3 linked regions of the Homo sapiens genome follow. The protein of the gene in region 1 purifies or fractionates together with the protein of each later gene. This does not show direct contact. Each region holds a gene or a part of one and is shown in the gene's direction. Other genes may lie near its edges.

Region 1 (3,654 bases):
CTGGCAGGCAGAAGCCCTGTGTGCTCTGTGAATGTGGCAGCTGCTGCTAGATGCTGACAGGTGCAGGGGCAGGGCTGAGCCGGCGCCTCCGGGTGGCAGCCGTGTGTGTGTGTGTGTGTGTGTGTGTGTGTGTGTGTGTGTGTGTGTGATTGTTATTGCTGGCTCCTCTGGGTGGCAGCCATGTGTGTGTGTGTGTGTGTGTGTGTGTGTGTGTGTGTGAGATTGTTATTGCCGGCATCTCTGGGTGGCAGCTGTGTGTGTGTGTGAGTGTCTGTGTTTGATTGTTATTGTTCTGTGAGAGAGTCCTGGAGGTATAGTGCTCTGAGCTGAGGTGAGTTGTCACATCCATAGCAATCAGGATTCTTTGGATGCAAACCACAGCGATGGACTCTGGCCAACTTTGTGAAGAAGGAATTAATTAGAAGGTTATGGTGGCAGGTAGATCACAGTGTCAGAGGAAGAACTGGAGAAATAAGCTCAAAAAAGACCGGGATTGAGCTATTCAGAGAGTTCCAGTACCAGGCACACATAAGCAGCTTCTCAAACTGAAACTGGGTTTGGTTAGGAAGGATGCTGAGTAGCATAAAACAGAACCAAGCCATCTGACTGCTCTTGTCGTAGAGATCGCGTATTCCTCCTTTCCTGTCAGCTGGTTTAAAAACCTGGGGCAAAGGGGGACCCTGCAGTCCACCCCACTCTTCCTGAGATGCCCTGCGGGGGTTGCAGAGATAGATCAAACACAGGCTGTCTCTCCCCAGGGACCAACAGTCCAGTAGGTGATAGCGGCAACACTGACTATGGCCAGGCAGGCTGCTGAAGGTGGTCTCTGCAACCCGAGTCAGCATGGCAGCCCTGACGGTGTTTTGGTGTGAGCAGCTCGCAGATGCAGCCCAGTTGTTTTGCTTTCTGGGCTGCTTCTTGAGGGTCACCTCAAGTCTGCACACAAGGGTAGAGCTGCAAGCTCTGGAGGGAAATAGCACTGGGTTATAATTTCCACTGGAGGACATCTATAATTTCATGTCTCTGAGTGTGAGTTTGGCCACAGGCTCCTCTGTAGGTGTCTGCACGGGAACCAGTGAGGACCCTCAGGCTTGAGCCCCCATTCTGCTGGATCTGGTGGTCTGGAAGGCTGGGCATAGTGTGACTGCCTCAGCCCCTCCATTTGTGCTAGGGCTGGGGGAGAAGGAGGATGGGGTGGGGAGTTCTCTGACTTTGCACGGTGGGAGTACACCCTTCTTGGAGGATATGAGTGCAAATGGATGTCAAGGAGCCCAGAGCTCTTCAGAGCAAAGAGCTGGGCAAATTCCTGGCTCCCACTCTAACTCTCTCTCCTTATTCTCCCATACCTCCCTCGGCAGGGTTGAATTTCACAATTGGGTCTGACCTGGCTTAGTGTGAATGAAAAGTGGTCGTTTACAGGAATCCTCTCTGTCTCGCTGAATTCCTGCCCCTCAGTCTTTTCCTCACGATTGAAATATACCCAGCCCTTCTTTTCCACTAGGACTTTGCCTGTGCCATCTTACCATCCCTGATTGGTGAACTCGTATTCATCCATCAACACCCAGAGATAATATCACCTCCTCAATGGGACATTCCTCAGGCACCCCAGGCAGTCCATGGTCCATCCCTGATCTTGAAGCATTTCTCCCAAACCACTCAAGTGGGCTTGTCTCCATCCCAGGTCCTGTTACGAAGAGGTGTTTTTCTCTCTCATTGCATGTGGAGCAATACTTCCATGCTATTCATCCTGTTATCACAGAATAAAAGAACGACTGTCTCCCCTAAGAGATATGGTGTGGGTCCCTGTGGCTAGACCATGTGATCTTACCCATAAACAGTCCTCACAAACACTCTCGATTTACGTCTAACCCACTCTTGTCACTGCCTGGCATTCGCGTGTGCCGTTCTTTCTGCCCTCTCTTTTCTTTGTATCTGTCTGCCCTTTGGAGGCCTCCTGCCTCTTCCAGGAGGGTCTCTCTGATTATTCTGGTGCCCAGAATTAGAAAGTATATGGGGTACATGCTGTGGTGTGTGGTAAGTGTTTAACAGCTGGTTCTCAGCATGTAGCTGCAACATGGATTTTGGGTGATATTTTCATTTACAATAAAGTGTAAGATGAAAGTGGAACAATGAACATATGTCAGAACTTCACTTGTTTGTCAGTGATCTAAATAACTTCTTTCCTAAATCACATAATAGTTTCGGAATACTAGAAGAATAGTCCCTCAGCTTTTTGTGAGCTATTCACAATATAACAGCTATCGACAAGACAAAAATTTCAGTTTAATCTGCATTATTGACAATTTTTTTCCATTACTTTCTTAAGTCCAGACAATGAACAAAACAAGAAATCAAGCCTTGATTTATAGCATTTCCATAAATAATCCCATTCTGGCTGATTCCCTGATTTCTGGCCACTCACGATATCCCTGGATGTGGCATGAGGAGGAGTGGACCGTGGCAAGCCCCCGCACCGGCAGGTGGAGCAGCGTCCACAGCGTAGGCAATGGGAATGTGTAGTAGAATGACTAGGAAATGATGGGTTCTGAGTATGTATTGCCTGTGTTTTTAATATAACTTCTTTGACTGTAAGTTTGTATAGTTTAGTTTTGAATAATGTCTGAGTTAAAACAGCTAACTTGAAACATTCCTGATCATCTCACAAGCCACTGTGAGCTGGCTCCAGCACACCACTGGCTGCATACCAAGAAAATCAAGTTGCAGGCAGAGACGAAAACCTTCAGACAGAATTGCGTGGCTGTGTCCACTCAGTTTCGTCAGGGGGTGAGCTTTATTAAGTGCCACAGTAACAGATACTGTCATTGGTTCAGTCAACAACTGTTTCTAACCCCATCTCACTTGGCTTTCCTGCACTGCAGAGGTTGGGAAGCTAAATCCATGTTTCCCAGACTCTTTTGCAGCCAGGGTGCAGGCCTTTGACACAGATCCTCACAAGCAGCCAGATACATCACCCAGCCCCGGATGTGCAGTCGAGTCCCATGAGCTGAAGTCTTTGGCATGCAGGTGATATCTGTCACTCACGGTGGCAGGGACATCTGGACTTGTGGGGTGGCTGTGGTGGACTTTGTAGGAGTTTGGTCCCTTGTGATTGGTGCTGGTACCAGCAGTTTCTACTAGACAGTGCCAGGGCATGGTTAGGCTTTTTTTTCTGGCTACCCTGACCCTTGGAGAGCTCCCAAGCTTGGTCTCTGGCTCTCACAGGGATTTAATGAGCTGCATGATAGCCTTTAATAAGTTCCTTTCTGTTTAAACTACCCAGGTAGAGGCTGCTGTCTGCAGGTGGGAAGCCCTGATTGCTGGAACCTAAGGGATGTGAGAAATCACTGTGGAGTGTCAAGGTAACCAGGGATCTGCTCCTGGGACCTATTAATCCACCTCTTTTAGAAGGAGTCCACAGTCCTGTTTGTATTTGAATATTCATGAACATTAGAAGAGCAACTTAGTCTGGGTATGGCTATGGCTGACAGAAGTATCATGCTGTGTCACAGCTGATTATTAGATCTGCATTTTTTGCCCTTTAGCTTGTCAAAATAATGTCTAAAAAACCAGATTGATCACAAAAGATGCATCATAATGCCACATAAAGATGTCACTCGGCGCCTTATAGTATTTAGGACCATAGAGGACACCTGG
Region 2 (3,337 bases), on another chromosome or scaffold:
ACAACCTGACAGAGTCTGTGGGCCCACTTCCCAAATCTCTGGAGGATCTGCAGCTTACTCATAACAAGATCACAAAGCTGGGCTCTTTTGAAGGATTGGTAAACCTGACCTTCATCCATCTCCAGCACAATCGGCTGAAAGAGGATGCTGTTTCAGCTGCTTTTAAAGGTCTTAAATCACTCGAATACCTTGACTTGAGCTTCAATCAGATAGCCAGACTGCCTTCTGGTCTCCCTGTCTCTCTTCTAACTCTCTACTTAGACAACAATAAGATCAGCAACATCCCTGATGAGTATTTCAAGCGTTTTAATGCATTGCAGTATCTGCGTTTATCTCACAACGAACTGGCTGATAGTGGAATACCTGGAAATTCTTTCAATGTGTCATCCCTGGTTGAGCTGGATCTGTCCTATAACAAGCTTAAAAACATACCAACTGTCAATGAAAACCTTGAAAACTATTACCTGGAGGTCAATCAACTTGAGAGTAAGTAAAAAGCTGTTCCTGTGTTTGATGTGTGCTCAAGTGTTTAAATACCTGGGCTGCACAACACAGATATTGCATCTGGCTCCATTAAAAAAACAAAATGTCGCCCGGGCGCTGTGGCTCATTCCTGTAAATCCAGCATTTTGGGAGGCCGAAGTGGGCGGATCACCAGGTCAGGAGTTGAGACCAGCCTGGCCAACATGATGAAACCCCATCTCTACTAAAAATACAAAAATTAGCCAGGCGTGGTGTCGCACTTCTGTAATCCCAGCTACTCAGGAGGCTGAGCCAGGAGAATTGCTTGAACCTGGGAGATAGAGGTTGCAGTGAGCCGAGATCGTGCCACTGTACTCAAGCCTGGGCAAGACAGCCAGATTCTGTCTTGGAAAAAAAAAAAATGTCCACAAAATATCCCTCTACTTCAAACAAAGAATAATTCTAGCTCAATCATATATCCAATATCCAGCCTTTCTTTGGTGTATCCAGATAAGGAACAATTAAGGTCACAGAATTTAATATGTAAGTCTTCAAACTAAAAATTCCGGGCCAACTCATCCTGCTGTGTTACCTCCTCATATATATCTCTTATTATTTTCTCCTTTATGGCTTAGATTTGTGTCCTACATTTATTTTTTGACAAGATCTAGATGAGGGAGGAAGAAATGAGTTCAAAAGTGGCACAGTTGGCAAACTCCATAGCCACAAAGAAGCCCATATTGTCCCTCCCTCCCTCCCTCTCTCTCTCTTTTTCTTTCTTCCTTCCTTTCTTTCCCTTTCTTTCTTTCTTTCTTTCTTTCTTTCTTTCTTTCTTTCTTTCTTTCTTTCTTTCTCTTTCTTTCTTTCTTTCTTTCTTTCTTTCTTTCTTTCTTTCTTTCTTTCCTTTCTTTCTTTCTTCTTTCTCTCTTTCTTTCTTTCTTTTTCTTTCCTTCTTTCTTTCTTTCGTTTTCTTTCTTTCTTTCTTTCTTTTTTTTTTTGACAGGGTCTCACTCTGTCGCCCAGACTGGAGTGAGGTGGTGCAATCTCGGCTCATTGCAACCTCCACCCCCCAGGCTCAGGCGATTCTCCCACCTCAGGCCACCACCACCACCAGGCTAATTTTTATGTTTTTAGTAGAGATGGGGTTTCACCATGTTAACCAGGCTGTTCTTAAAATCCTGACCTCAACTGATCCATCTGCCTTGGCCTCCCAAAGTACTGGGATTACAGGCGTGAGCCACTGTGCCTGGCCCCATATAGTCTCATGGTCTTCCCTGACATCAACTACTTGGGACTCACCATGTTACTCTGCTGTCATGATCATCATCTGCCTCTGTTATCTCTGTTATGGTGTGTGGCCATCACAGTGCTCTGGAGGACTGTGAAGAAGATTAAAGAGAAAAAGAAATATGATGGGAGATTCTAACATCTTTTTTTTTTTTTTTTTTTTTAGAAGAAAAATAGTGTTACAGAGCTTTTTTTTTCTTGGGTACAATCCTGCCCCTCATTTGATATTTCCACACTTTCTCTTTCTCCTCTCTTTATTTTTCATTTATCTTCTGGATGAAGTTTGATCTGATGCATTTGGACTGCTTATGCACTTATGTGGTCTTCAGGGACATTCTTCAACTTAAGCAGTATAGATTCCAATGGGAAATTGAAATCCACCATTTCCTACCAGGATAACTCTGCCATTAATCTTTGGCAGAGCTTGGTAGAAGAGAAAAACCATGATTCACAGATAAGGCTTTCTAAATGAAAAAATCAAGCAGGAAACATTGATTCACATATAAAGTAATAATGTCTGCAAAATAATCTATTGAATTTGAACATCTCTACATGATGAAAATTGGTTTTCTGGCCATGCTGAATAAAGGTATTGCTGTCAGAAAATATTACAATATATTTTATGCATATGATGTTTGTTAATTCTGCCAGTTTCATATAACCTCTAGTAGGGTTAAACGTTTTCATAAAGAAGACCATACTCGCCAACTCTGAAGCTCCACATGTTCTTTGTTGTTTCTGAAAAGCAGCCAAGGTAAGGGTTGGTGCTGTTTGACTGTCACACAATACACAGTCAGGCTAACACAGCTAAACCCCTCTTGTTGTTTCCAGTGGAAAATTCACTATGTGGCCATATGTGATTCCTCATTTTAAACATATGTGGTTAGGAGGAAGGATACTCTCTGACAGACCAAAATGCTAAAGGAATTTACGATGCTTAAGGGATGACGGAGTACATTAGATTTGGTGGGTAGAGATTATTCGTAAGAGCAGGGCTACTTCTTTCTCTGAAACAAAGAAGGATACAGAAGTAGGCACATTTGAAGGTATACATTGCATGAGTAAAGGATGGAAGAGAGGTCTATGGGAGAAAGGCCAACGGCCTGTCAGTGCCAAGCTGAGATAGAAACCACAGTGCCCAGTACATAGTGGTCATTTGAAAAGGTAACATAATAGTTTCCTTTCTTTCTTCCTTATCTTTGTACATTTAGTCAGGTATTCTCCTTGTCTTTTTATGTATCACCTCAGTTTAGGTTATTTTGCCAGATAATAATCAACTATATCAACATTTCACATTCACTTAATACAGAAAGTTCCCCTCAATGTTTTTTTCTAATATTAGGGAATATATAGCCAAAACAAACTGTTTTCTATTTCAAACTTGCAACTCTAAGCATTAGCCCAATCAGAGATCTTCCTAGTGTAGAGTAATTTAGAAAGACAGCAAAATCAAAAGGATATTAGTCATTATTTAGGACATACTATGTACTAGTATTGTGTGAAGTGCTCTACACAACTTAATTTAATCTTCATGCAACACGGTAAGATAGATGTGTTATTTCTAACAAGATCAGATAAGTGTTCCAGT
Region 3 (3,654 bases), on another chromosome or scaffold:
GGTCATGGATTACTAATTTAGAAGTATTTATAGAGCATCAGTGGAGTGTATATACAATTTTAGATGTTTTAATTGATGATTTAGTCTGGCCAGGATATTTGAGTTACCAGAGCTTGGAACCCCTAGCTTCTATATTATCATTTATTATTTTGTAGTTTTTTCCATTTCTGCAAAATTAAATTTTTTTCATGGTGGCTTTCCATCTTTCTTGCTTTTTCTAACATCTTTTTTCCAATGGAAGGGCTCTTTTCTTTGTCTGAATTAGACCTGTTATTTAAATTCATCATCAGCGCCTCCCCTAATCTGTACTTTCCCCCAGCACGTTTCAGATGCTTTTTCCTTTCTGAGCTACCTTTACATTTTAACTACAGTGTGCATATATCTTATTCCTTCTAGACTCTTAAAGTGTCTTTAGGGCAGGGTTCATAATGTATTTTAATCTTTGTTTTTCCACAGTAGTAGATGCCCAGTAAATACTTGTGAAATGAATTAATTATAGTTTTATTTGAAAGAAATCACAGATCTGTAATTATAGCAACTTACGTTACTAGGTACTAAAACACTTTTTAAAGACTAGAAACTGAAGTTCTCAAATGAAGTTCATTGTGTCAAGCTTTTTACTTAAGGGATTTTTTCATATTTACTAAATGCTTTGACTGCTTTCTTGTTTTTTTTTTTCTTATTGAATTTAAGTATCTTTTAAATGTGTGAGAGTTATGTGATTGATTGTATAGTATCTAGCTTTTCATACTCTTAGTTAAGAGTAACTTTGGACTGATATTAAGATGTTCTTCAGGCCGGGGGCTCACGCCTATAATCCCAGCACTTTGGGAGGCCAAGGCAGATGGAGCACTTGAGGTCAGGAGTTTGAGACCAGCCTGGCCAAACTCCTTTCTGGAGTCAAGCACATTTTTATGGTGAAACCCTGTCTCTACTAAAAATACAAAAATTAGCTGGGCATGGTGGCACATGCCTATAATCTCAGCTACTCAGGAGGCTGAGGCAGGAGAATCGAGGCGGTGGTTGGCAGTGAGCAACCACTGAGTGGTTAAGATTGTGCCACTGCATTCCAGCCTGGGCGAGAGAGCGAGACTGTCTCAAAAAGAAAGATGTTCTTGAGAACCTGTCAAGTAGTAAATATTTTATCATAGGATAGTCAATTCTATAAAGTACTGGATATTTTAAATTCAGAATTTCATCCACATTAAACTTTTTCTGTTTTAGAGTCATGTACTTTTGTTTTTGTTTTTGTTTTGTTTTGTTTTGAGACAGAGTCTCGCTCTGTGGCCCAGGCTGGAGTGCAGTGGCGCAATCTTGGCTCACTGCAAGCTCCCCCTCCCGGGTTCACGCCATTCTTCTGCCTCAGCCTCCCAAGTAGCTGGGACTACAGGTGTCTGCCACCACACCGGCTAATTTTTGTATTTTTAGTGGAGATGGGGTTTCACCGTGTTAACCAGGATGGTCTCGATCTCCTGACTTCGTGATCCGCCTGCCTTGGCCTCCCAAAGTGCTGGAATTACAGGTGTGAGCCACGGCACCTGGCCCCAGAGTCGGGTACTTTTACATTTCATTTCTCTTTTTTACTTGACACTGATTTCTGGTGATTGAAGCCTCTTTAGCCTTGACACAGTTTGCTGGGTGCATATTATTATAGTACAAATCCTACTCATGCTTTTGTTTTTTAGTTTTCTCTTTTTCCCTAACCACTAGACCACCAGGGACTTCATGCTTTTGAATGTAAGCTTATGTGTGCTTAGTGTTATATCTGCCTTCTATCTAGCACCTTTTTTTTGGGTAGGGGGGTGGGGTACGAAGTCTCGCTCTGTCGCCCAGGCTGGAGTGCAGTGACGTAATCTCGGCTCACTGCAGCCTCCGCCTCCTGGGTTCAAGCAGTTCTCCTGGCTCAGTCTCCCGAGCAGCTGGGACTACAGGTGCACGCCACCACGCCAGGCTAATTTTTTTGTATTTTAGTAGAGACAGGGTTGCACTGTGATGCCCAGGCTGGTCTTGAACTCCTGAGCTCAGGCAGTCTGCCCGCCTCGGCCTCTCAAAGTGCTAGGATTATAGGCGTGAGCCACTGCGCCCAGCCCCCAACTTGTACCTTTTTTAAAGCTAGTTTCTTGAAAATTCCAAGCAAGTGTTAACTACATTTGATGATGAATCATAGAGGCATTTTCTGTTCTCAAGTTGGACCCCGAGACATGAAAGTTGCTAATGTCCAGAAAAAGCATACAGAATTAGAACATTGTTATGGGGTCTCTTTCCAGATCAAACTTTCATCAGCTGTCTCAGAAAGCAGAAGGGCTAACAATATAAACACAGCCATATTTTCTTTTAATAAAAATTGTTATTAAAGAGTGTGGACTTAAATTTAGACATAGTTTTCGTTTAGTCAAGCACATTTTATACCATGTTACTATAAATGTGTAGTCTGAAATTCCTATTTGGGTTGATGTATTCTACATTAATAACCAGGTCAATGTCATAACTGGAATGTGTTTTCTCTCTTGGCCTGTTTTGCAATAACAATGTCGGAGAGAACTGTAATAATGATTTGTGTTTTGGTCATTTCTATATCGAAGCACTCTTTTTAAGTAGGGCCTATTGAATACTACATGGCTTTTTGGAAGGTTAATTTTGTAGATTATATAGGGTTCATTTAAAAGTTAGAATCATTTAAATTATACATGCCGTAGCATTACCAAGGTATGCTTCAAAAAATTTGAATAGATGTCCATGAAAAAAATTTTGTCAGCAAAGAAGTGTGTGCAACGACCACTAACAAAGAAAAAACCTCTAGTATTTATGCAAGGTTTTGTAAGCAGGCACTGTGTTATAGTTTCAGATATTTTTAAAATGTAGATAAAAAGTAAGCTGTTTGCCAAATTTATCTGACCAGACCTTTTTTTTTCCTCTAGGGAACTTTGTTATCTATTATTTTGAGAAGCATACTTAGGGAAAAATTGTCCAAGAGGATATATAATTCTGATGCCTTTTTCTTTATTTTCCTTTATTTCATTAAAAACATTACTCTTGAATCTGATTAGGAAAGAATATTAGAATTCCTTATATACATTTGTTGATACCAAATACTGTTCCTCTTTCTTTTTATGTATTTACCTTTTATTATTAATATTACTGCTTTGTACTCTGCTTTTTGTCTGTTGTAGGTATAGTAAAGTTATGCTTATTATTTTTATACCTCAAGCAGAAGTGCCATAAACATTTTTTGTGTCAAAAGTTATTCACCATTAATTTGAAAACTTTTTTTTTTTTTTAAAGAGACAGGCTCACAATATGTTGCCCAGGCTGGTCTTGAACTCCTGGCCTCAAACAATCCTCCTGTCAGCTTCCCAAAGTGCTGGGATTACAGAAAAACTTTTGTGGTGTTAGATTTTGAGATGCTAGCATTTGTGATAGGTTATTTGGTAGACATGTTTCATTATGACCCCTTGCTTAAAACGATGTCCTTTTGAAAAGCATAGTTCATTTATGGGAAAGAGCATGGAGAATAAATGAAGCAGTATATTACTTGGCTGACTTAAGGTAACTATAATGGAAATGGATTCATTGGATTTGTCTACAAAGAGACTTGTGTTTGATTTTTTAATGTTCCCACATCTCTTTTTATAGATTATAATAATTTAGGTCATA

Evidence for each region.
Region 2: the proteins of ZNF488 (region 1) and LUM purify together in Homo sapiens (affinity purification with mass spectrometry; one large-scale study listed by BioGRID and IntAct). This does not show direct contact.
Region 3: the proteins of ZNF488 (region 1) and USO1 purify together in Homo sapiens (affinity purification with mass spectrometry; 2 studies listed by BioGRID and IntAct, with this or other methods). This does not show direct contact.

The regions. Positions count from the first base shown.
Region 1 is NC_000010.11:47,374,166-47,377,819, reverse strand, and holds part of ZNF488 (zinc finger protein 488), read left to right. Parts: intron 1-3,280; exon of another isoform or gene 3,281-3,359; intron 3,360-3,654. UniProt on the Homo sapiens protein: Transcriptional repressor. Plays a role in oligodendrocyte differentiation, together with OLIG2. Mediates Notch signaling-activated formation of oligodendrocyte precursors.
Region 2 is NC_000012.12:91,105,267-91,108,603, reverse strand, and holds part of LUM (lumican precursor), read left to right. Parts: coding exon 1-486; intron 487-3,337.
Region 3 is NC_000004.12:75,727,552-75,731,205, forward strand, and holds part of USO1 (general vesicular transport factor p115), read left to right. Parts: intron 1-3,654. UniProt on the Homo sapiens protein: General vesicular transport factor required for intercisternal transport in the Golgi stack; it is required for transcytotic fusion and/or subsequent binding of the vesicles to the target membrane.